Regions from separate parts of the Homo sapiens genome. Here all the other regions are linked to region 5. The links come from fine-mapping of genetic effects on gene expression. A gene starts in region 5. Each other region holds a variant in brackets. All regions are shown on one strand. Distances are from middle to middle.

Region 1 (4,609 bases), 120 kb after region 5:
AGCAAATGATAATGAACTCAGATCCTTTTTTCACTTAGAGAGTTCATACCCTTACTTTAGATTGTTCCGGCATTCTATGAGTTTATTAATTCTTGTTTCTCCAGGATATTTTGTAAAAGAGATAAAATGAGAACTTAGGGAGGTCAGAGGATTTGCTTGTCATGGAGATCTCAATGTGCCATTTGCTTTGTCTCCCCGGCTTTGTCAGAGTAGAGACAAAGAAATGACACCTTGATCTGTAAGAGGGCTATCTCTGTAGTGTCCTAGGTTGATGCTTATGCAGCTCAGTCAATACCCAGCGATGTTCTCCACACCTTTTGTCTATGCTAGGATCTGTCTAGTGATAATTATAGGCCATCCAAGTAAAGATTTCTAATGTAATGTCCTGTAACTTAAACCTGATCATTATCCTGTTATTTTCAGGGATGTTCTTGTCATGTTTTTTAAAAAAAGTATTATGCTTTGTCAACTTATTTCTTAAATAATTTTTAAATATAACTTTGGTTGGATCCTCAAATAAAAACTTGTTTTCCTTCCTAGCTTTTGTTTTTTGGGGTCTTGCATGGAGCCAGAGTCTACTTAGTGCAACCAGTCTGTGCAGTGTCTCATGAGCACTCTGCTCCTTTCCCTTTGGCTTTTCCTGACTGGGCTGCTCTTTCTGCTCTTATTCTTTGCAGTTTTTTTTCTGTCAGTCTATTGTGATGCCTTAAGCATCACTGTGAAGATGGGGCGGGTGTTATCCCTTCTCTGAGAATGGAAAGCTGAGGCAAAAGTCGCAAAATGGCTTGTGAAGACACAGTTGTTCCTTAGTAAGTCCCGTGGCTTTATGCTGACAGCCCTCACGGTTGGGTCTCCAGCACAGACCTCCAGACTCACTTATCCAGCCGCAAGTCAGGATAGCCGGTCAGCATTTCAGTTTGGCCATAATCAACCTTTTGATTTTATCTCTTGAATCTGCGTCCCTCATTTCCCCCAGCTCAGTAAATGGTAACCCTGTTCTTCCCTTGTCTTACACCAAAACCAATGCAGTCCTCCTCTTTTTCTATCACAACACAAACCCATCTCATCAGCAGATCCTATAGGTGCTACCTTTAAAATTTGTTCAGCACATGACCACTGATGTTCACTTCCTTGTTCCCCACTCCGGTCCCGGCTACTGTTGTTTCTTGTCTCAATTATTGCCTTGATCAGATCATGTCCTTCCTCCTATTTCCCTGGGTGTGAGCCCTTGGCTTCTCTTGCCTCTGTCTCTGCCCTCCCCTGCCATCATCCTGTGCTCGCAGTTCCGTGTGCATCCATATTGCTCTTCTGTGAACACCTTGGGCACGTATCACCCCATGGGTTTTGTGCTTGCTCATTCCTCTATGGAGCACTCTTCCTGCACTCTGTGCCAGCCAGTCCATCCCCTGACAGGTCTCTGCTCAGACCCCCTCGATCAGAGCCCTTGTTGACCTCCCTATATAAAGTGGACTTTCCCTCTGTCACTCTGTCTCCCTAAGCCAGCTTCCTTCTCCTTCTTAGCACTTATCACCTCTTACATTTGTGTCAATCTTTTATTGTCAGGTCACTCACTGTGGAAACTCTTTCGCTGCTGAATTCACAAGGAGTTGCTGCTCAAAAAATTTCTGTTAAAATGGCTCAGTGCATAAATGCTATGAAAAGCTACAGCATTAAAATAGATAACGTGCCCTGACTGTGTATTTGATAGGTTCAAACTTACAATTTAGTTACTATGAAATATTTCCATTGCTGTTGATCAAATACATGTAAATTTCTGAAGAACTAATGTGCAAAGTTTAGGATAACTTTGGAAGAACACAAAGAACAGAGGAAGAACATGTTTTAAGTCTCTTTTTCCCCCCTTCTTTCCTTTGTCCATACAGGATTTACAGCTGTTGGAGGATGGTGATCTGACTGTGATAGGAGATCGGGGAACCACGCTGAGTGGAGGGCAGAAAGCACGGGTAAACCTTGCAAGGTAAGTTGCATTTCAGCAGCCACTATGCCGGTGTCTTTTGATACCTTCCAGTGGTGGTGAGCACATAGGACCTGCTTACTGTGTATTGCGTCCTGTGTGAAGCACCTTCTTGGGTTATTCTGTTGGCATTTGAATGAACATCCCAGTTGTTGAAAGTTGTCATGTTCCTGGGTGAGAGTCTGATACCTCTTTGTATTTTCTAGAGCAGTGTATCAAGATGCTGACATCTATCTCCTGGACGATCCTCTCAGTGCAGTAGATGCGGAAGTTAGCAGACACTTGTTCGAACTGTGAGTGTGTTTGTGTCTTAAGTCATTTCTGCTTTTCCAGAGCCATTTCGAGTTGGCTCAGGAAAGCCTTTATGGCTTTCAGCTCATCCTACTCTGGTGTCCGCTCCCCTCCCCACACTGTCCCCTGCTTCCCTGAAGATCCATTTTAGAGAAATTTTGCAGAAATACAAGGTCAAGGTAGGAAAATACACAAAGTGATTTCAGTGTGTTGCAGTGAGTGGAGTGTATCATGTTTTAGGGAGTTGAGAAACAGATGGCAAATTTTGCAAGTTTTCCCCTACTAGTAATTACAGTTGATAACCAAGAAACTGCTGATGGACCAGGCCCCGGAGATAGGAAAGATGGTACTCCATTTTTCAATGGAAGGGTGGCACTTGGCAACCTGAGCCTTGTCTTTCAGCTCTTTTCCTCCATCATTTCTCTATGACAGGTTAGAAGTGA[C/G]GTCCTTGGGACCAACATAGGGCTTTCTTGGGAAGGCTTTGTTGCTCTTTACATACTAATCTGTCAGTTTGGAGATAACCTACTAGTAAAATCTAGAATTTAAGAATGATTTGCTCCATAGTAGACTGTGGTTTCAAGAATCTAATGTTGCTTCATGGATTCTTACCAGAGTGAACACTTAAAACCCACAGGCATGTAGGCCTGGCTTGCCTTTGAAACTAGTTGTCTAGAATCTGGCTTCCCTCCCAACTCTTACGTGGTGTTTCTGGGATTTTCTTTCTTTGGCTCTTGCTTAGACACTGAGCCATGGAGGTAGAACTACTCTGGAATCTTTTCTGTATATTCTATAAACTCATGTGTGCCGACTGACACTTCCTACATAGTCTAGACTGGCCTTTTTGAAAGCATTGTGAACTGGTTTTGCCAAAACAGCACTCACATCTGCCCCACAGTCAGCTTCCTGTTTTTCGCCTTGTTAAAGTCAGTGAGCCTTTCCCACTCATTGTAACCCTTCTGCGCACACTGAGGTAGATGCTCCTGCAGATGCTACTGCATGAAACATCTTCGCTTGCAGAGGAGGGCAGTCAGCCACAGAGAAGATAAGCACCCATGCTGGGCTGAGTGAGAGAGAGACAAGTTCAGATTTCATTCTTGCCCATAAGGAATTTGTCTCTGCATGGATCAAGACTAAGTGCATGGGAAAAGTTCAACAGACCCCAAGGCTTAGGGGATTTCAATATAGGACAATCTATTTTATTATTATTTTTTTTTTAGATAGGATCTCGCTCTGTTGCCCAGGCTGGAGTGCAGTGGTGCATTCTCAGCTCACTGCAGCCTCGACCTCCTGGGTTCAAGAGATTCTCCTGCCTCAGCCTCCCGGGTAGCTGTGACTACAGGCTAGCACCACCATGCCCAGCTCATTCAGTGTTTTTTTGAAGAGAGGGGGCTTTGCCATGTTGTCTAGGCTGGTCTCCCTATGTTGCCCAGGCTGGTCTCGAACTCCTGGGCTCAAGGGATCCACCCCCCCCCCCCCCCCCCCCCTGCCCTCGGCTTCCTGGAGTGCTGAGATTACAGGTGTGAGCCCCTACACCTGGCATACGACAATCTTTTTTTTTAAATGGAAGAAGTGGGCAGCAGAGATTGGAAAGGTCACTGAGGGCCGGGCTTGGCTGGAAGTAGCCTGTGGTCCTGCAGGCTGGTAAGGGTTTGTGGTGGCTGAGAGTAGGATTCAATTCCTTTGAAAGAAATAGTAGAAGCAGAGGTGTGCAGACGGGAAGGAGTGAGGCCTGTGGGAAGGACAGCAGGCAGGCACCTGTTCCTGTGGTGGGGGATAGAGAAGGTACCGTGAGAGAAAGCTCTGGAAGTCCTGTGTTGGCCAGCCAGGGCTGCCCTCACAAAATGCCACAGGCTGGGGGGCTTCCACAGCGGCAGGTTGTTTCTGCAGAGTTCTGGAGACTGCATGTGTGAGATCAATGCATCTGCAGGTGCAGCTCCTCCCGAGGGCTTTCTTGGCCTGCTGATGGCTGCCTTCTCACCCTTTTCTCCTTGTGTCTCTGTATCCAAATCTCCTCTTCCTGAAAAGACACCAGTCAGATTAGAGTAGGGCCCACCCTCATGGCCTCATTTTAGTGTAATTACTTCTCTAAAGGTTCTGTGTTGGCCGGGCACTGTGGCCCATGCCTGTAATCCCAGCACTTTGGGAAGCCGAGGCAGGCAGATCACCTGAGGAGTTCGAGACCAGCCTGGCCAACGTTGTGAAACCCCATCTCTACTAAAAATACAAAAATCAGTGGTGGATGGTGGCGGGTGCCTGTAATCCCAGCTACTCTGGAGGCTGAGGCAGGAGAATTGCTTGAACCCAGGAGGTGGAGGTTGCAGTGAGCCGAGATAGCGCCATTGC
Region 2 (4,609 bases), 40 kb after region 5:
TTTGGCCAGTGGGAGCTCCTGGGTCCTTTGGACATGTTGTCGGGATTCTTTGAACATTTCATTACTTTTGTGGCACAAAAAGATAGTTCAGACATGTCTTGTACTTCTTCTGCCCCGATCTTGGATTCAGCCATTTCTCAAAAGAGCCTCTGCATTAAAAAGAAAAGTTACATATTCTTTTTCATAAGTGGATACTATATTTAGAAAGAGTGCTGGGTACTATGCATTTTTTTTTTTTCTTTTTTGAGACAGAGTCTCTGTTACCCAGGCTGAAGTACAGTGGCACGATCTCGGCTCACTGTAACCTCTGCTTCCTGGGTTCAAGTGATTCTCCTGCCTCAGTCTCACAAGTAGCTAGGATTACAGGTGCATGCCACCATGCTGGGCTAATTTTTGTATTTTTAGTAGAGACGGGGTTTCACCATGTTGGCCAGGCTGGTCTTGAACTCCTGACCTCAGGTGATTCACCCACCTTGGCCTCCCAAAGTGTTGGGATTACAGGCGTGAGCCACTGTGCCCGGCCTAGGCATATTTATTGTTATGGGATCTCATTGCTTCTAGGAACTCTAAGCGGACAAAGCTAGAATGTATTTGCATACACAGATCAACACATATTATTTATATATTTGTGTGTATGTGTATATATATACACACACATATACATATACAGTTGGTTCTTGTTACTAGTGGAGCTCTATAAAGTCTCCACAAACACAGGACTAGTGAATACTGAACCATTGCTTCCAGGCGAAATACAGGGTTAGGTTCCTATGCGCCTTTGGTCACATTTTTGTCAGCCATTTAATATATAACCTTGTTTTATGCATGTGTCTGCTTAGAGACACCTTTTTTAATATATAATTAATCATTAACCTTGAATTAACAGCCAGCAGCACTATAGTTCATGCCTGAAGGAAGCTTCTGTAACACACGTTTTTTTCTGTAGGGCACATTACACCCGCCTTGCGCTTTGATGCACTAGACTGCACTTGAGCATGATGCTTGGGGCCACTTTAGACAGCGAAGTCACCCACAAAAGTCCCCAAAATGTGAAGAACATGGTACTGAACAGCCCACAAGAAGGACAGTTGTTTCTACTCTAAGAGCGGGAATAAGAAGGCAGAGTGTCAGCTGGGCGTGGTAGCTCACACCTGTAAATCCAGCACTTTGGGAGGCCAAGGTGGCTGGATTGCTTGAGGTCAGCAGTTCGAGACCAGCCTGGCCAACATGGTGAAACCTCGTCTCTACTAAAAATACAAAAAAATTAGCCGGGCATGGTGGCGTGTGCCTGTAATCCCAGCTACTCAGGAGGCTGAAGCAGGAGAATCGCTTGAACCCAGGAAGCGGAGGTTGTGGTGAGCCGAGATCGCACCACAGCACTCCAGCCTGGGCAACAGAGTGAGACTCCGTCTTGGGAAAAAAAAAAAAAAAAGTCTAAGTGTCATTTCGTTTGACTTCAGCTGGGAGCATGCATGTTGGGTGACTCAAATATTTTGCTACTCTGTGCATGTCCGTGAAGGACTGCAAGACACCTGGAGGACTGATTTTTGGGGTTACAATTTAGCAAGTAGGCAAACTCACAAATACAGGATTTGTCACTAAAGAGGATCAGTGTATATTGATTTCTCTATCTTTATTTAGGTATCTATTTATATAGATCTGTATTAGGAAACAAATTAGATAGACTTCACACCAGTGCTTCAAATCACAGTTCAAAAATCTCATGCTTTGTTCTGGTTCTCCCTCTTTCCATATTTGTATCTTCATCCTTCAGTAGTGAGAAACTTGACTCCTGCTGTCCTCAACACGTTGACTTCTTTGCTCAGTCCTCTTGTTTGTCACCAGGGCCCCAGCCACGTGGGCCATCTCCTTGCAGAGAGTGTTCCTGGGACCTGGTGTGCGGGGCCCCAGGGCTGTGCTCCCAGGCTGCTGCTTGTGAACTTGCTGAGAGCTGCCCCCCAGGCATGTTGCCCTAGGCTGGCCTCCCAACCTAGTGGATACTTTTGATCATTGTTCACTGTAACCTCAAGCCCCTGGGCTCAAGCATTCCTCCTACCTCAGCCTCCAGAGTGGCTAGGACTACAGGTGTGTGCCACTGTGCCCAGCCAATTAAATTTTTTTTTTTTTGTGTGGAGAGAAGGTCTCACTATGTTGCCCAGGCTGGTCTCGAACATTTGGGCTCAAGAGATCCCCCTGCCTCAGCCTCCCAAAGCGCTGGTATTATAGGCATGAGCCACCATGCCTGGCTTGAAGTTAATTTCTTATTAACGTTTTCAGTATCATTAGAATATAGTAATGCAGTAGATTTTTGACTGTTTATTGGTATTGTACATCTTGCACCTCTAATGTGCTAGCTTACTGTCTTCAGTCAATGTAGGATTGGAGTTCTAATTGTGTAAAACTCTGTATATAAGGTTTATTACTTTTTTTTGTGTTTTTTTCTTCTTCAATAGCCATGTCACCATTAATACTAGTAAATGGATAAGCCATTCCTTTCTAATATCTTGTTTTAATGACAATGAATTTAAGATATGTTTTGTGGATAAGAAGAGCTGCTCATAGATACAGCTTTTTATGTTACTGCTATGCTAGTTCTAGGTAATTTCTTTTTTTTGATAGGGAGTCTTGCTCTGTCGCCCAGG[G/C]TGGAGTTGCAGTGGTGTGATTTTGGCTCACTGCAACATCTGCCTCTTGGGTTCAAGTGATTCTTCCGCCTTAGCTTCCTGAGTAGCTGGGATTACAGGCACGCACCACCACGCCCAGCTAATTTTTGTATTTTTAGTAGAGACGGGGTTTCGCTATTTTGGTCAAGGCTGGTCTTGAACTCTTGACCTCAGGTGATTTGCCCACCTCGGCCTCCCAAAGTGCTGGGATTACAGGCGTGAGCCACTGGGCCTGGGAATTCTAGGTAATTTCAGAGTAAAAAATTTGATTTAGAGTTGCTTCTTCCTTTTCTATGAAATAGGACATTTACAAAATTGTTTTTGAAAAGATGACTTGGGTTGCGATGTTTTTCTTGTTTTGAGATCCTAGAGTAAATGAGAAATAGGATGTGGAATTTTAAACTGACTTCTTGTGCATCTGCTTATTTTTGTGGTAGAGTCACAGAGTTACGACCAAGCAGGGGAGGTGAGAATTGTGCAGACTGGGGATATTGGGAGGGTGAAGGGATCTAGTTTGCTTGAATAAAAGGATGCAAGTCACTGTATTGGTGAAGTTTCTTTCAAATCCAATTCCTGACTGATTTCCTTGCCTTCCACAGTTCATCATATACAAAGTAGCTTAAAAACATTCACAATTTCCCTGTTATCTTTAGGATAAAGTCCAACTTTCTGAGTTTAGAACACAAGACCTTTGATTACCCCATTATCACCCCAGACCCCATGCAGCATTTTCTCTGCTGTCTCCAAGCAATAAGTCTTGGCTGTGTGGCTCCATTTTTCTGGAAAATTTGTCCCTTCTTCCTCCTTTGTCTTCTTGGTAAACTCCAAATTCTTTTCCTAAAGTTTGCTCAAACTGTGTCCCTTTCTCCAAACCCTCTCCAACTTCCCAGGTACCTGACTATACCCTCTTTCTTCTCTCTACCGTACAGATGGTTCCCAGACCTGGCTGATAACCAGGATGTGCTGGGTGAGGGGAGCTTTTTAAGGACCGCCACTTGGGTTTCATCTTGGCTTGTTCTGATTCAGTCATTTAGGTTGCGGTTCTAGGTGTCTGTGGGTTTTTGTTTTAAAATTCCCCAGGCATAATTGGGTAACATATTGAAGTTTACCGAAAAACAAAACAAGAAACTCCCCAGTAAAACTCCCCAGGCTGAGGTAGGGATTTTGCTAATGAGCCAGGGTTGGGTTGGGAGTATTGGCGTATATGTCAGACAAGTGCTTCCCATTTGGTGTGTCAAAGCAAGCTGTATGGCACGTTCTCAAACCTGAACCTGCATCCGCATCACCTGGAGAACATCAGAAGATACAGATTGCAGGGCCCCACTCTCAGAGTTCCTGATTCATAGACCTGGAGTGGGTCCTGAGAATTTGCATTTCTAACTCTTCAGGGGATTCTGGTGCTGCTGGTCCAGAGATCACACTTTGAGAAACTCTGCTGTACAGAAGATGAGTCTCGTGAGCTGGGATGTTGATCCCTTAGAAAGCCCAGAAGTAGAGTCTGTGCATAGCCTGTGTCCACATGTGTCCCATCTTTTTTTTTTTTTTTTCCCCACACTACACAGATGTAACATGTCCCATCTTACTGTAATTCTTTGTTAACATAGATGCCTTGAACTCTTGGAGTGGAATTGAACCGGTGGATTTACTAATGGGTTTATATCATTTGCTAACGTGGCTAAAAGACTGCTGTCATTGTCTTGCAACTTCTGTCTGAGGTCAACATTTGATTTAAGATTCTATAGCCTGTCCAGAAAGGCTGTAAAAAACTTTAGTGCGGTGGTTCTGATCCATGTGATTTTGCCACCCTGGCAATGCCTCAGATAATTTTAGTTGTCAGGACTTGGGATGGGGATGCTGTTGGCTTCTTGAGGGTGGGGTTCAGGGATGCTGTTAACCATCCTACAGTGCACGGGACGACACCCCCAACAAAGAGTTTTTCAGCTCCAAAT
Region 3 (4,609 bases), 53 kb after region 5:
AGAAACCACTATTGGCCAAGCTTGGTGGCTCATGCCTGTAATCCCAGAATTTTGGGAGGCCAAAGTGGGAGGATCACTTGAGCCCAGGAGTTCGATACCAGCCTGGGCAACATAGAGAGACCTGGTCTCTATCAAAAATAAAAATATTAGCCAGGCACAGTGGCATGTGCCTGTACTCCTAGCTACTTGGGAGGTAGAGGTGGGAGGATTGCTTGAATTCAGAAGTTTGAGACTGCTGAGCTCTGATCGGATCTGAGTGAGCTCTGATCGCTCCACTGTACTCCATCCAGCCTGGGCAACAGAGTGAGACTCCATCTCAAAAAAAAAAAAAAAAAAAAAAAAAGAAACCAGTATTCAGAACTTCTCAAATCCTTGGGGGAAAAAACAACAAAAACTAAATGCCACCACCACCAACAATAAATAACAAAACTCTCTACTAACCCTTGTCTAAGACTCCTGCTTGCTGGAAATGATGCTGGGGGTTGTGATCCTGGGGTGGAGAATGTCTCTGTATTGCTGAAGCTGATGGCTTCCTGTGTTGGGCATTGAGCACGACTATGCTATATTGAGTTTGTATTGAATTTTACCCTAGATCATTGCTCAAGGTACTCTACCCATCTGTCTTATTCAATAATACAATCATTCATTCTTTCCATAACTGTTTATTGAGTATCTATCACATACCAGGCATAATGGGGATTCCAAATAATATGGCAGTAGTCATTGCCCTGAAAGCATTGTACTCCTAGTAGGACAGTTAGGAGGGAAGCGATGCTGCTGTACTAAGTATTGTGGGAGATAAGGGGGAGAAGAGACTAAGTCTGAGGAGAGAAGGGCTACTGGGGCAGAACTGGGTGGAGGAATGGCTCATTTGGCAGTGGTCTGGAATTGTTGACTAGACCCCCTCAGGGACACATTGGTATTAAGGAGCCAACTGACTTAGATTTCCATGTATAAAGTCCTTACATAGATGGTCAAAGATAATTTAGTCTCTTGTCAAAGTTGACTTTTGTCATCAGGCAAAAGCCTTTAGCTCTTGCTGGTACCCACATCTTTTCAGCCCAGCTTTTTGAGATCTGGGCAATGAGAGAGAGTAGGAGGGTCCTTGTTAAGTCCTTACTGATTTGTGTCATCCTCTAATAGAAGCTTTGGGTCTCTTCTGATTGCAGATACTTTAACTCAACAGTGGCATCCCTCCTTGTTAATATTTCTAAATGTTATGCAGTTAACTGTTCAGCCTGTGGAACAGAGTTACCATTCTCACTTTCCTTAATTTTTTAACTTCCTGGAGCCAGTTTTATTCCCTGATTAAAAAAACCTCTTTAGTCCAAAAAGACACCAGTGAATTTTACTTAGAAGTCCTTGCTGAAATATACTGTATGAGGTTCTGCTGGAAGGGAGGTCTCGGGCATGCAGAGGTCATCTCAGGCATGTCTGGGAAACCCACCTAAGTTGAAGCTGGACTGGTTAGGTTACAGTCTTCTGGACACATTTTGGAGGAGGTGAGGAGAAAGAGGTGAGTTGATGAGTTCTTCTTGCCATTGGGTTAATTAGAATTGCTAGTTTGGATCAGCAGGAGGTTTCCGGAATCCTGAACATAACTTGGATACCCCTGCAGTGTGTGCTCCAATCTTACGGGGCATTGAAAGCCCACCATTTCACTGCAGGCAGAAGCCACCAGGCAGTGGGTTCCCCATGGGAAGGGCTTCCTAGATTAGACAATCCCCATGTTAAAATAAAACATGCCTATTAAAGGTGACACATGGCCAGATAAGACAGCCAAGATGAAAGAAGTTTGTGTAATTGAGTAATTGCATCTATCAAAGTTATTAGAGGTTTCCTTATAGGGCACAAATATGTTTCTTCTTCTTTTTTTTTTTTTTAGACAAAGCCTTGCTGTTCTGCTCAGGCTGGTGTGCAGTGGCGATCACAGCTCACTGCAGCCTTGACCTCCTGAGCTCAGTCCATCCTCCCACCTCAGCCTCTGGAATAGCTGGGATCACAGGCTTACACCAGTACATCTGGCTAAATTTTAATTATTATTTATATTTTTTATTGTTTTGAGATAGTCTCACTCTGTTGCCCAGACTGGAGTGCAGTGGCATCGATCTCAGCTCACTGCAACCTCTGCCTCCCAGGCTCAAGTGATTCTTGTGCCGCAGCTTCCCGAGTAGCTGGGATTACAGGCATGTGTCATCACACCTCGCTAATTTTTATATTTTCTTACTAGAGATGGGGTTTTGCCGGGCTGGTCTCGAGCTTCTGGCCTCAAGTGATCCGCCTACCTCAGCCACCTAAAGTGCTGGGGTTACAGGCATGAGCCACTGCCCAGCCTTTTTCTTTATAAGTTTTTAGTAGAAGTGGGCATCTCACTATGTTGTGTAGGCTGGTCTCAAACTCCTGGGCTCAAGCCATTCTCCCTCCTCAGCCTCCCAAAGCTCTGGAGTTACAGGTGTGAGCCACTATGCCTGGTGCATGTTAATTATTATCATTTAATGATTAATGATGTTAATTATTATCATTTAATGATTAATAATGTTAATATCATTTAAGTGATTCCTAATGGATGACCATTTTGATTTTTCTTTTTTTTT[A/TA]GTAAAAAGAATCTCAAAATATTTGAATAAGTTCTTTCTGTCCTCTGCAAGATTACTATTTTGTCCTTTCGTAACTAATAAATAATTTGTACCTAGATAATTTTGGATTATGTAAATGTCCCATCAAACCTTCACTGACTGGTTTTAGCTCCCATTGAAAATGTTTTCTAACCTCATCATTCTTTATCTGAGAGTTTTTCCTTCTTACCCCATTTATGTCTCAGTAAGGATTCGTGGATTCTTTTGTTATTCAGTGGGTTAGAATTCATTGCTGTCATGATTTATTTGGATGCTTCCATTATCACAGACTTGTCTAGTGGGACCCCGTCAAGCTGGGTCCTCTGTTCTTTGGGCCCATCCTCTTGATTCCTTGAATGTTTCCTTATCGTATGGTATCTCATGGGCCATCTTTTTCTGCCCCAGCCTTTGAATCAGCTATTTCTTCAGGAAGCTCTGGTTCCTTTTAGATAATAATGGTTTTGGAAACCAAGATCTGGGCACCAGCATGCTCTCAGCTACTGGTGTGTCATTGCTTCTGGGGCCTGTCTGTGGATAGAGCTAGGGACTGTGTGTGTGTGTGTGTGTGTGCACATGTTAACTTTTCTCTCTCTAGCTCTATATATTCATATCTGTCTGTCTATATATAGCTGTATGTATTTTAAAGGTAAGTTTAAGCAAAACCCATGGAGGTAGGAGTCTACTTAAACACGGATGTGTAATTCTGGATATATGTCTCTTTTCTCTTGTTAACAGGTGGCTCAATCCCTTGTTTAAAATTGGCCATAAACGGAGATTAGAGGAAGATGATATGTATTCAGTGCTGCCAGAAGACCGCTCACAGCACCTTGGAGAGGAGTTGCAAGGGTAAGTCGGAGGCAGTAAAGTGGGCATTAAGGAAGCGTGGGTGTCTGTGTGTGGGGAGTGGGTTTTGCCTTCCTGGGTCCTGTCTGGAGCCTCCGTTTACCCTTAAGGTGAATATGTGTCACCTTCCTCAGGCTGCCCCTAGGCTCAGCCTACCATGGTGGCCTGGGGGAAACTCCTGTTGCCTGTGCCTCCGTAGAGGTCAGGGGAGCCAGCACCAAAGGCCCGAGATGCCTGAGGTCTGTCCCTCTAGGTGGAAGTGTTGTGGTTGGAGGAGGTTGTCTGGCTTATCTGTGCTACTGATGGGGCTTCAATCCAGTAAAGCTTGGCAGTAACTTGTTTCCCCAGACTTCCCCTCAAGGCCTGTTTTTCTGATGCTCCAGATTCTGTACCACACATAACCTTCAGGAGCCCTGGGAGCAATTAGTAGCATTTATGAAATCGTCACAAAATGCCCTGTCTTAAATGCATACCTGTCACTCTGCCATCTCCCCTGTTTTATATTGTGGCAGGGTTCACTCTTATTTACGAAGCTTTTTCCTCATTGTAGGTTCTGGGATAAAGAAGTTTTAAGAGCTGAGAATGACGCACAGAAGCCTTCTTTAACAAGAGCAATCATAAAGTGTTACTGGAAATCTTATTTAGTTTTGGGAATTTTTACGTTAATTGAGGTAAAAGCTTTTACATACCATGAATTGTTTTTCAGGACACATAGAGTAAATGTGCTCGCCATTGACTGGTGCTGTAATGGATGGGGGAACAGAAGGGAGAAGTGGCCAGATGGGGTTTGAAGGTATTTTAAGGTCTAAGGATTAAACATGTCTAGGAAGTATTAGGTAGTTAGTTCAGTGAGCGTATTTATCCAGGTGAATACTTAAGTGACTGAAGTTCAAGGTCATTATTGTTTTTCTTGTAACCAATTAAAATGCAGTGTCATGGAAGAAGAGTATTTTATTCTATGGTAGGACAATGTTGGTGCTCGGTAAATGTTTTAAATGCTAAGAGTCACTCCTGGTCAAAAGAGGATCCTACAGCCTTGAGGAGTGCGTGCCCTGTGGTTTAGAGGAAGTGATTTTGGATCGGAGCCCAGAATAATGTAAGACATTTTACAGGTGCTCAACAAATAATTGTTCACCAAGCCAAATCTGATAATT
Region 4 (4,609 bases), 23 kb before region 5:
CTTGGCTGTCTCACTACAATATTGATTTATAATGTGTGGTTAAGTATTCATAGGACATCACCAATGACACTTTCATCTATTGCCAATTTTAATAGTCATAAATGTATTGATTCCTTGGAAAGCAATTTGAAAGTTCTGATTTTCTCACTGCACAAAAATTCTTAAACATATACACTATTTGTAGAGCAATCAGAGCCAATCATAACATGAGTTACTTGTAGCCACATAATTTCAAAAGCAAAATCTCTTTGAAAATGTCTGTATGCCTGGCACGGTGGCCCATGCCTGTAATCCCAGCGCTTTTCAAGGTCAAGGCGGGTGGATTACTTGAGATCAGGAGTTGGAGACCAGCCTGGCCAACATGGTGGAACCCTGTCTCTACTAAAAATACAAAAAATTACCCGGGCATGGTGCTGCGTGCCTGTAATTCCAGCTACTTGGGAGGCTGAGGCAGAAGAATCGCTTGAACCCAGGAGGCGGAGGTTGCAGTGAGCTGAGATCGCTCCACTGCACTTCAGCCTGGGCAATAGAGCCAGACTCTGTCTCAAAAAAAAAAAAAAAGAGAAAATGGTTGTAGGCTAGGCATGATGGCTCTCGCCTGTAATCCCAGCACTTTGGGAGGCCGAGGCAGGTGGATTACTTGAGGTCAGGAGTTGGAGACCAGCCTGGCCAACATGGTGAAACCCCATCTTTACTAAAAATACAAAAATTAGCCAGGTGTGTTGTCGGGCGCCTGTGATCCCAGCTCCTCAGGAGACTGAGGCAGGAGAATTGCTTGAGCCCGGGAGGCAGAGGTTGCAGAGAGCCAAGATCAGGCCACTGCACTCCAGACTGGGTGACAGAGCAAGACTCTGTTTCAAAAGAAAAAAAGAAAGGAAACAAAGGAAAGGAAATGAAAGGAAAGGAGAGGGGAGGGGAGGAGAGGGAGGGAGGGAGGGAAAGAGAGAGAGAGAAAAAAAAGAGAGAAAGAAAGAGAAAGAAAAGAAAAGAAAAAAGAAAATTGTTCTAATAAAAAACATGTGTAGGATGTAAATGATTATGACATGTGATATAACATGCAGTGGGACCCACTGAAAGTATCCAGAGCCAGGGCCAGCTTTGCAGGCAACTGACCTGTGCATTTAGCACGAGGTCACAAGTTCATAAGGGCCCCGAGACTGGTTTAATGCTCTGCTCTCATCTTGGAAGTCTTTCTTCCTTCCTTCCTCCTTCCTTCTCCCTTCCCTTCCCTTCCCTTCCCCCTTCCCCCTTTCCCTTTCCCCTTTCCCCCTTCCCTTCCCGTCCCCCTCCCCTCCCCTTCCTTCCTTCTCTCTTTCTGTCTGTCTTTCTGTCTTTCTTTCAAGACAGGGTCCCATTTTGTTGCCCAGGCTGGAGTACAGTGTGACCATGTAGCTCAGTGCAGCCTCTACTTACTTGGTCCAAGTGACCCTCCCATCTCAGCCTCCAGAGTAGCAGAAACTACAGGCATGTACCACCACACCAGCCTTGGAAGTCTTCGTAATTTTTGAACAATGAGCCACACATTCTTTTTTTTTTTTTTTGATATGGAGTCTCACTCTGTCACCCACGCTGGAGTACAGTGATGTGATCTCAACTCACTGCAACCAACGCCTTCCGGGTTCAAGCAATTCTCCTGTCTCAGCCTCCTGAGTAGCTAGGACTACAGGCATCCACCACCATGCCGGGCTAATTTTTGTATTTTTAGTAGAGACTGGGCTTCACCATATTGGTCAGGCTGGTCTCAAACTCCTGACCTCGGGTGATCCACCCACCTTGGCATCCCAAAGTGCTGGGATTACAAGTGTGAGCCACCACACCTGGCCATGCCACACATTGTTATTTTGCTCTAGGCCCTACAAATTACGTAGCTGGTCCTGTCCAGACTTTACAAAGATTTTAAAACAGCCCTGTGTGGAGCTCTGTATCCAGTAAAGCTGTGTTGCTTCCCTTTGCAACACAAAGGTTTGTTTTTTAGGTCCTGTGTTTAATTCACTTGAAAAATGTGTGAGATTTTGTGTTTTTTACAAAGTAGCTAGATTTTAAAAGTTAGGGAATTACTGTACTATATAGAAAGACAAAACTCCTAAGCAAAGATACAGACCCACATTACTAAGGCATTAGAAACAGCAACAAGAATTTACGAAAAATAAAATGTACTTCAAAATTAAATCCAGGCTAAGCACTTCAAAAGGTCCAAATGGCTTCCAGGCTAGGAACCAAGAGTGAACAAGCATTACCTCCACAAATTAAATTTGAAGTGGCTGTAGGACATTTTCATCTAATTTAGATAAAGTTTTAAAATGGTCCTATCCACAATCCATCAAAGTACTGTCTAAACAAAGGCCAGCATTTTCTGTTTGGGGAAACCAGGGGAGGAAAAACC[T/C]TCGGGCCACATCCTGCTGATATCATTGAGAGGCTCAATGGCAGGATAAGGCCCTGAGTGTTCGGTCGGCCACACTGAGCCCTGAGCCGCAGCTTTTCTCCCACGCCCTGAGGAGTTGCCAGGGCCAGGTGAGGACTCTGCCATTTGTTGGATATGAAAGGAAAGCTCAGGGTAAGGCTTGGTGAGTGAGTACTCCCTCTGGATGAAGTCCAAGTGGTCCTCGGGCAGTACGAAGGGAAGGCTGGGCATTAGAAAGATGTGGGCTCATTACCATCTTCGTCACTTCTACTACTTCAATAACATTTATTTTAATTTGCTGGCTCATGAGTTTTTTGTTTGTTTGTTTAAAAATGTATGTTCATCAGGCCAGGCGCGGTGGCTCACGCCTGTAATCTCAGCACTTTGGGATGCCAAAGCGGGTGGATCACCTGAGGTCGGGAGTTCGAGACCAGCCTGAGCAACATGGAAAACCCAGTCTCTACTAAAACTACAAAATTAGCCGAGCGTGGTGGCACATGCCTGTAATCCCAGCTCCTCAGGAGGCTAAAGCAGGAGAATCACTTGAACCCTGGAGGTGGAGGTTGCAGTGAGCTGAGATCGCACCATTGCACTCTAGCCTGGGCAACAAGATCGAAACTCTGTCTCAAAAGAAAAATATATAAGTTCATTGGCCGGGCGCGGTGGATCACATCTGTAATCCCCGCACTTTGGGAGGCTGAGGCGGGTGGATCATGAGGTCAGGAGTTCAAGACCAGCCTGGCTAAGATGGTGAAACCCCATCTCTACTAAAAATACAAAAATTAGCTGGGCGTGGTGGCAGGCACCTGTAATCCCAGCTACCGGGAGGCTGAGGCAGAAAATTGCTTAAACCCAGAGGCGGAGGTTGCAGTGAGCTGAGATTGCACCACTGCACTCCAGCCTGGGTGACATATATATGTATGTATGTTCATCATGGACAACTTAGAAAAATATTAAAAAATAGAAAGAAGAAGAAATGACCCATAATTCTATTTCTTGAAGAAAAACCACTAGATCATTAATACTTGGGTGTGTTTTTTCTGGTCTCTTTTCCACAATATTGTTCATTTTTACCTAGAAGTGTAGAAAATATATACCCTGGCTGGGTGCAGTGGCTCACGCCTGTAATCCCAGCACTTTGGGAGGCCGAGGCGGGCAGATCACGAGGTCAGGGGATCAAGACCATCTGGCTAACACGGTGAAACCCTGTCTTTACTAAAAATACAAAAAATTAGCTGGGTGTGGTGGCGGGTGCCTGTAGTTCCAGCTACTGGGGAGGCTGAGGCAGGAGAATGGCGTGAACCCGGGAAGCAGAGCTTGCAGTGAGCCGAGATCACGCCACTGCACTCCAGCCTGGGTGACAGAGCCAGACTCCATCCCAAAAAACAAAAAAAAAAAAGAAAGAAAATATATACCCATATTATATATTTAATTTTGTCCTTTTTCCTCTTAAATGGCATGGTACAATCAGGATAAATAGGAAGGTTGATATAACAGGGTTGAAATAAGTCCAAATTATAATTTATTAAGTTAAAAGTGACTAAGCTTATCAAATAAGAAACAGAAATTTTCATATTGGTTGATAAAGAAAAGCCAGACCTTGGCCAGGCATGGTGGCTTACGCCTGTAATCCCAGCACTTTGGGAGGCTGAAGGGGGTGGATCACCTGAGGACAGGAGTTTTGAGACCAACCTGGCCAACATGGTGAGACCCCGTCTCTACTACAAATACAAAAATTAGCCAGGCATGGTGGTGCATGCCTGTAGTCCCAGCTACTCAGGTGGCTGACACAAGAGAATCGCTTGAACTTGGGAGGCGGAGGTTGCAGTTAGCCAAGACTGCACTCCAGCCTGGGCAACAGAGCGAGACTCCGTCTCAAAAAAAAAAAAAAAATAAAAAAGCAGCAAAGATGGCAAGATAAGGAATTAAGGAGAACATATTCAGAGATAAATTGTTAATAAGAGAATGCCATGAACTTTTTTTAACATTTTATTATATTTAATTAATTTATTTATTTTTAGACAGAGTTTCACTCTGCTGCCCAGGCTGGTGTGCAGTGGCAATCTTGGCTCACTCAGCAACTGCTGCCTCCTGGGTTCAAGCGATTCTCCTGCCTCAGCCTCCCGAGTAGCTGGGATTACAGGCATGCACCACCAAGCCTGGCTAATTTTTGTATTATTAGTAGGGATGGGGGTTTTACCATGTTGG
Region 5 (4,609 bases):
ATTATGGGCTTGTACAGCCTGGAGTGCAGTGGCACCTTCTTTTTTTTTTTGAGACGGAGTTTCACTCTTGTTGCCAAGCTGGAGTGCAGTGGGATGATCTCGGCTCACTGCAACCTCCGCCTCCTGGGTTCAAGTGATTCTTCTGCCTGAGGTTCCTGAGTAGCTGGGATTACAGGCATCCACCACCACACCCAGATAATTTTTTGTATTTTTAGTAGAGATGGGGTTTCACCATGTTGGCCAGGCTGGTCTCGAACTCCTGACGTCAGGTGATTCACCTGCCTCAGCCTCCCAGAGTGCTAGGATTATAGGCGTGAGCCATTGTGCCCAGCCCAGTGGGCACCTTCTTAACTCCTTGTAGCCTGGAACTCCTGGGCTAAAGCCATCCTCCTGTCTCAGCCTCTCGAGTAGCTGGGACTACAAGGGTACGCCACCACACCTGGGCTAATTTTTAAAACTTTTGGTAGAGACAGAGCCTCACTATGCTGGCTAGCCTGTGCTTGACTTTTAAATATGTGTTTGTGTAAGGCTTTCTTTAAAAGCTATTAACTATACTATTTTAGCAAATATACATGGGAAATTATCAAGGAACAATAAAATGATCTTGTTCCAAGCACCATGAACTTGGAGCCTTTCATTTTTTTTCATTCAGGGTGGATATGAAGAGCAGCTGCTGACCTTGTTAAGGTAGCCACAGAAATGACTGAAGACTTAGAGGTGGGAGTACACAAGCTTGGAACAAGATTTTGTTCATTCATTCCTACAGCCATTCAACCAGCATATTCTGGGCACTTCTCATGCACACTGGCCATCCACCAGGGAGACAGGCCATGCTTAGACATAGGCTTATTGCAAATCATGTTTTATCCTTTCTTGGCTCTAAGACTGGACAAGTTCTGCCTTTCAGCTTCACCTTCCTCATCTATAAAGTAAGGATAACCTTGAATGGGGCACTGATAGAATTAAAAGTGAGATAATTGGTCGGGCGTGGTGGTACATGCCTGTAATCCTAGCACTTTGGGAGGCCACGGTGGGAGGATCACTTGAGCCTAGGAGTTTGAGACCAGCCTGGGCAACAAAGTGAGAAATTATCAAGGAACAATAAAATGATCTTATTACAAAGAAAACCAAATTCTCAAACATGCATGAAATATGAAGAAAATAAACCTCCATGACAATCATTTGGCTTCAAAAATTATCAGTATTTGAACTTGGAGCCTTTGATTTTGATTTTTGCATCTCTACAAAAATTACAAAATATGAGCCGGGTGTGGTGGCGGGTGCCTGTAGTCCTAGCTACTTAAACTGAGTTGGGAGGATTGCTTGAGCCCTGGGAGGTCGAGGGTGCAATGAGCCATAATCGTGACACTGTGTGTGAGACTGCCACACACACACACACACACACACACTAGTGAGGCTACGCACTCAGAAATGCACATGAACATCACTGGTATTCTGGAACCCACGTGTCGTTTGCCACTGTTATCTGTTAGGCTTTAGGGCTTGACGACAGAAATCATCAGGCAGTCTCTCTTTCCTCTTATATTCCTTTCCCAATCTAAGGGGGCAGCAAAAAGCTCAGAGGTCCACCGTAGCATGCAACATGTGAGATGCCTAAAGCCCGCCCCCATCGACGACAGCATTCATCCATCTCCCGAATTCATCTGGGTCATACTCTCGAGTTACCCGGCTTTCTTGAGGTCTTGCAGCTCTACAAGGATAATCTGTGGCTAAACTTTGCTGTCGTCCAAGGTCAAATGTTTGGCTCACAGGTTGAAGAGCCTCCCATGGCACCGTCGTTTGGTCCTGAGAAGGGAAAGGCGCCCAGGGGGCGGGCTGCTAGAGCACGAGGCAGCTGTCTCCCAGTCTTCCCAAACCCGTAGCCGAGGGGGCGTTTCTGCGGCGCAGGGGCGGGCACAGCCGACGCCTCCCTGCTCCACCTTCTGTGTCGGCGCCTAGACTCGGATAGTGAATTTCGGAAAGTTTCACTCGGGTTCGTGCACGTGGGCACCTCCGGACCCGGCCTCCTTGCCGCGCGCTCTGCTACCCTCTCCATCCAGCGGCGCAGGCGGCCCTCGCCTCACCCCTGGGCGTAGCTCTGGGCTCCCTTTGGCGTCGCCAGCTTCGCCTCCTCCCGCCGCGTCTCCTCCCGCCGCGTCACCCGTCGGTCCCGGCCGCGCTCGCACGCGGTGCGCAGCTCCCGGGCTCCAGGCGGCGGCGCGTAGCGGGCGCCCCCGAGGCGGCGGGCCTGAGAGGCGGGGACGGGGCGTGCCGCCGGCGCCCGGCTCCCGGAAGCGGCTGCTTCACAGGCTCCAGCCGAGCGGACAGGCGTGGCGGCCGGAGCCCCAGCATCCCTGCTTGAGGTCCAGGAGCGGAGCCCGCGGCCACCGCCGCCTGATCAGCGCGACCCCGGCCCGCGCCCGCCCCGCCCGGCAAGATGCTGCCCGTGTACCAGGAGGTGAAGCCCAACCCGCTGCAGGACGCGAACCTCTGCTCACGCGTGTTCTTCTGGTGAGTGTCCCCGCCCGAAACAGGTCACCCTGCAGCCGCTGGCGCCGCGGACGCACTCTCCCGGGGCCGCGCCCGATGCTGCCCAAGCCCTCTGCGGCTGGGGGCGAGGGGAGCGCTTTCCTACGCCACGCGGTCCACGCCGGGGCTTTCTGCTGCGGGTGGCGCCGCCCCCACGCCGGCCGCGTGGTCCCTGCCTGCGCCCCGGGGCGCGGCGCAGGGGGACGCGGGGACGCGGGGCCAGTGGCTTTGCTACTGGAGGCCCTGCGGGCCCTTAGGGCTCGGGGGAGGAGGAGCAGGAGGTGGGGAGGCGGGGAACCCAGGCTGCCGAAAGGGGGAGTCTCTTGCCCAGCGGGAGAAGCGACTGCACCCCTTACACGCCCACCCTTCGCTGGCTCCCGCCTCCTGCTCTGGGACTCGCAGTCTCCTGAACTCAAACGCACCTTTTCCTTTCTTTTTAAGTAAGCAGCTTACGAACAGTTTCCTTTATCTGATCTCAGCCAAAGCCTAATTAGTGTCCTGGACCTATGCCATCTCCCAGTAGTGTCCCCACCCCTTCCGATATTCCTTACGAGACAGCTCGATCCAACTCCACGTCCCGTTGTACCTCTCTGTGTCCCGGTGTCTCTGTATCTTTTGTCTCAGTGACCAGGGCTCTCCTTTTGCCTCTTTGTGGGAATCTCACTGTGTGTCCATGTGGGTCGTGGTACCTAGTTATGGCAAGTTTCATGTGGGTAAAATAACACTATTATTATTTTTCATTTATGAATGGGGACCCTGTTCTTGAACAAGATTTTCCAGGATTTGCTTTTAACTGGGACATGCACCGCCACGACTGGAGTCTGTCTTTGACCAGCTTCTTTCCCCTGTTTCCAATACTTTCACTTCCACGTAGGAGGACAGCTCGGAGGTGGGGTCCCTGGAATCGCTAACCTTCAGAGAGGTGATCCATGGTCTTGATGCAGGTGGTTCCTACCAGGAGTTCTACCTTCTTAAAACCACCCCAGGGCTCCTGAGCTGGGAGGGCCCACAGCCCTACCCATTTTGTGCAAGGAAACAAACGGAGAAAGACTCGGGTGACAGTAGTAACTAAAATTTCCATCTTGGCCTGGCGCGGTGGCTCACGCCTGTATCCCTGCACTTTGGGAGGCAGAGGTGGGTGGATCACGAGGTCAGGAGTTCGAGACCAGCCTGGCTGACATGGTGAAACCCCGTCTCTACTAAAAATACAAAAATTAGCCGGGTGTGGTGGAGCACGCCTGTAATCCCAGCTACTCAGGAGGCTGAGGCAGGGGAATTGCTTGAACCCAGTAGGCGGAGGTTGCAGTGAGCTGAGATCGCCCCACTGTACTCCAGCCTGGGTGACAGAGTGAGACTCCGTCTTGGGGGAGTGGCGGGTGTGTGTGGGGGAATTCCGTCTGCTAACTACATAAGCCTGAACCTTTGAAGGGCTTCAATCTCACTTGGATGATTATTAGATCTTCTGTTTCTTGACCTCTGCCGCCTCATCTTTCCCACATGTTGATATTGCCTTTTATTATGGGACAACCTAGGGTGGGGGTCTCCAATTTTTTGGGTTCCCTGGGCCACACTGGAAGAATTGTCTTGGGCCATACATAAAATACACTAACACTAATCATACACTAACACTAATGATAGCTGATGAGCTAAAAAAAAATCGCAAAAAAAAATCTGATGTTTTAAGAAAGCTTACGAATTTGGCAGCCCATGGGCCTCAGGTTGGACAAGCTTGACCTAGGGGATTCCAAGAGGATGAGTCGCTTACTCTTGTTTCGATTGTGGTACACTCAGTGGGTGTAGGAACTTCTCTTGGTTGTTTGGCGGCCTTTCTCTTAAGGAGAGGGGCACGTGGAGGAGGAAGGAATATGGGTGTGGTTTCTGCAAATAATAACTTGAGGTAGACAAATGGTCTCCTCAACTTCAGGCAGGGCAAGGAACTTTTTTTTTTTTTTTTTGAGACAGGATCTTGCTTTGTGCAAGCTGTGACCCAGGCTGGAGGGCAGTGACACATTCATAGCTTGCTGCAGCCTCCAACTCCTGGGCCGAAGCAATCCTCCTGCCTCAGCCTCCCGAGTAGCTG

Alleles and levels. Alleles are on the strand shown, and positions count from the first base shown. SD is a standard deviation of normalised expression in the study named. Not every link is listed here.
As copies of C replace T in region 4, the expression in spleen of the gene that starts at base 2,301 in region 5 goes down (moderate effect, 0.41 SD a copy in GTEx).

What was found. PIP is the estimated chance that this variant, and not a neighbour inherited with it, causes the effect.
Region 1: its variant is fine-mapped to the expression of ABCC4 in memory regulatory T cells (Schmiedel 2018, PIP 0.95).
Region 2: its variant is fine-mapped to the expression of ABCC4 in skeletal muscle (GTEx, PIP 0.98).
Region 3: its variant is fine-mapped to the expression of ABCC4 in blood mononuclear cells (TOPMed, PIP above 0.99).
Region 4: its variant is fine-mapped to the expression of ABCC4 in spleen (GTEx, PIP 0.97).

Annotation. Positions count from the first base shown.
Region 1 is chr13:95,175,366-95,179,974 of GRCh38, reverse strand. ABCC4 (ATP binding cassette subfamily C member 4 (PEL blood group)) reads left to right here. Exons shown (of 31, transcript NM_005845.5): 12 at 1,884-1,978; 13 at 2,182-2,268. Among named protein-coding and RNA genes, the nearest start is that of SNORD13G, 33 kb to the left of the region's middle. The variant C/G (reference allele first, on the strand shown) is at 2,710.
Region 2 is chr13:95,259,455-95,264,063 of GRCh38, reverse strand. All of the region lies in intron 1 of ABCC4 (ATP binding cassette subfamily C member 4 (PEL blood group)), which reads left to right. Among named protein-coding and RNA genes, the nearest start is that of ABCC4, 40 kb to the left of the region's middle. RefSeq lists enhancers at 1,009-1,128, 1,719-1,768, 1,889-1,948. The variant G/C (reference allele first, on the strand shown) is at 2,643.
Region 3 is chr13:95,246,492-95,251,100 of GRCh38, reverse strand. ABCC4 (ATP binding cassette subfamily C member 4 (PEL blood group)) reads left to right here. Exons shown (of 31, transcript NM_005845.5): 2 at 3,348-3,458; 3 at 4,006-4,126. Among named protein-coding and RNA genes, the nearest start is that of SNORD13G, 38 kb to the right of the region's middle. The variant A/TA (reference allele first, on the strand shown) is at 2,595.
Region 4 is chr13:95,322,218-95,326,826 of GRCh38, reverse strand. No RefSeq gene overlaps it. Among named protein-coding and RNA genes, the nearest start is that of ABCC4, 23 kb to the right of the region's middle. The variant T/C (reference allele first, on the strand shown) is at 2,384.
Region 5 is chr13:95,299,143-95,303,751 of GRCh38, reverse strand. ABCC4 (ATP binding cassette subfamily C member 4 (PEL blood group)) reads left to right here and starts at 2,301. Exons shown (of 31, transcript NM_005845.5): 1 at 2,301-2,511. The coding sequence starts at 2,438. It overlaps LOC102724149 (a long non-coding RNA gene), which reads right to left and starts at 2,801. Exons shown (of 3, transcript XR_429273.4): 1 at 2,489-2,801; 2 at 1,426-1,806. RefSeq lists silencers at 1,796-1,855, 2,036-2,095, 2,126-2,765 and enhancers at 1,582-2,356, 3,959-4,018.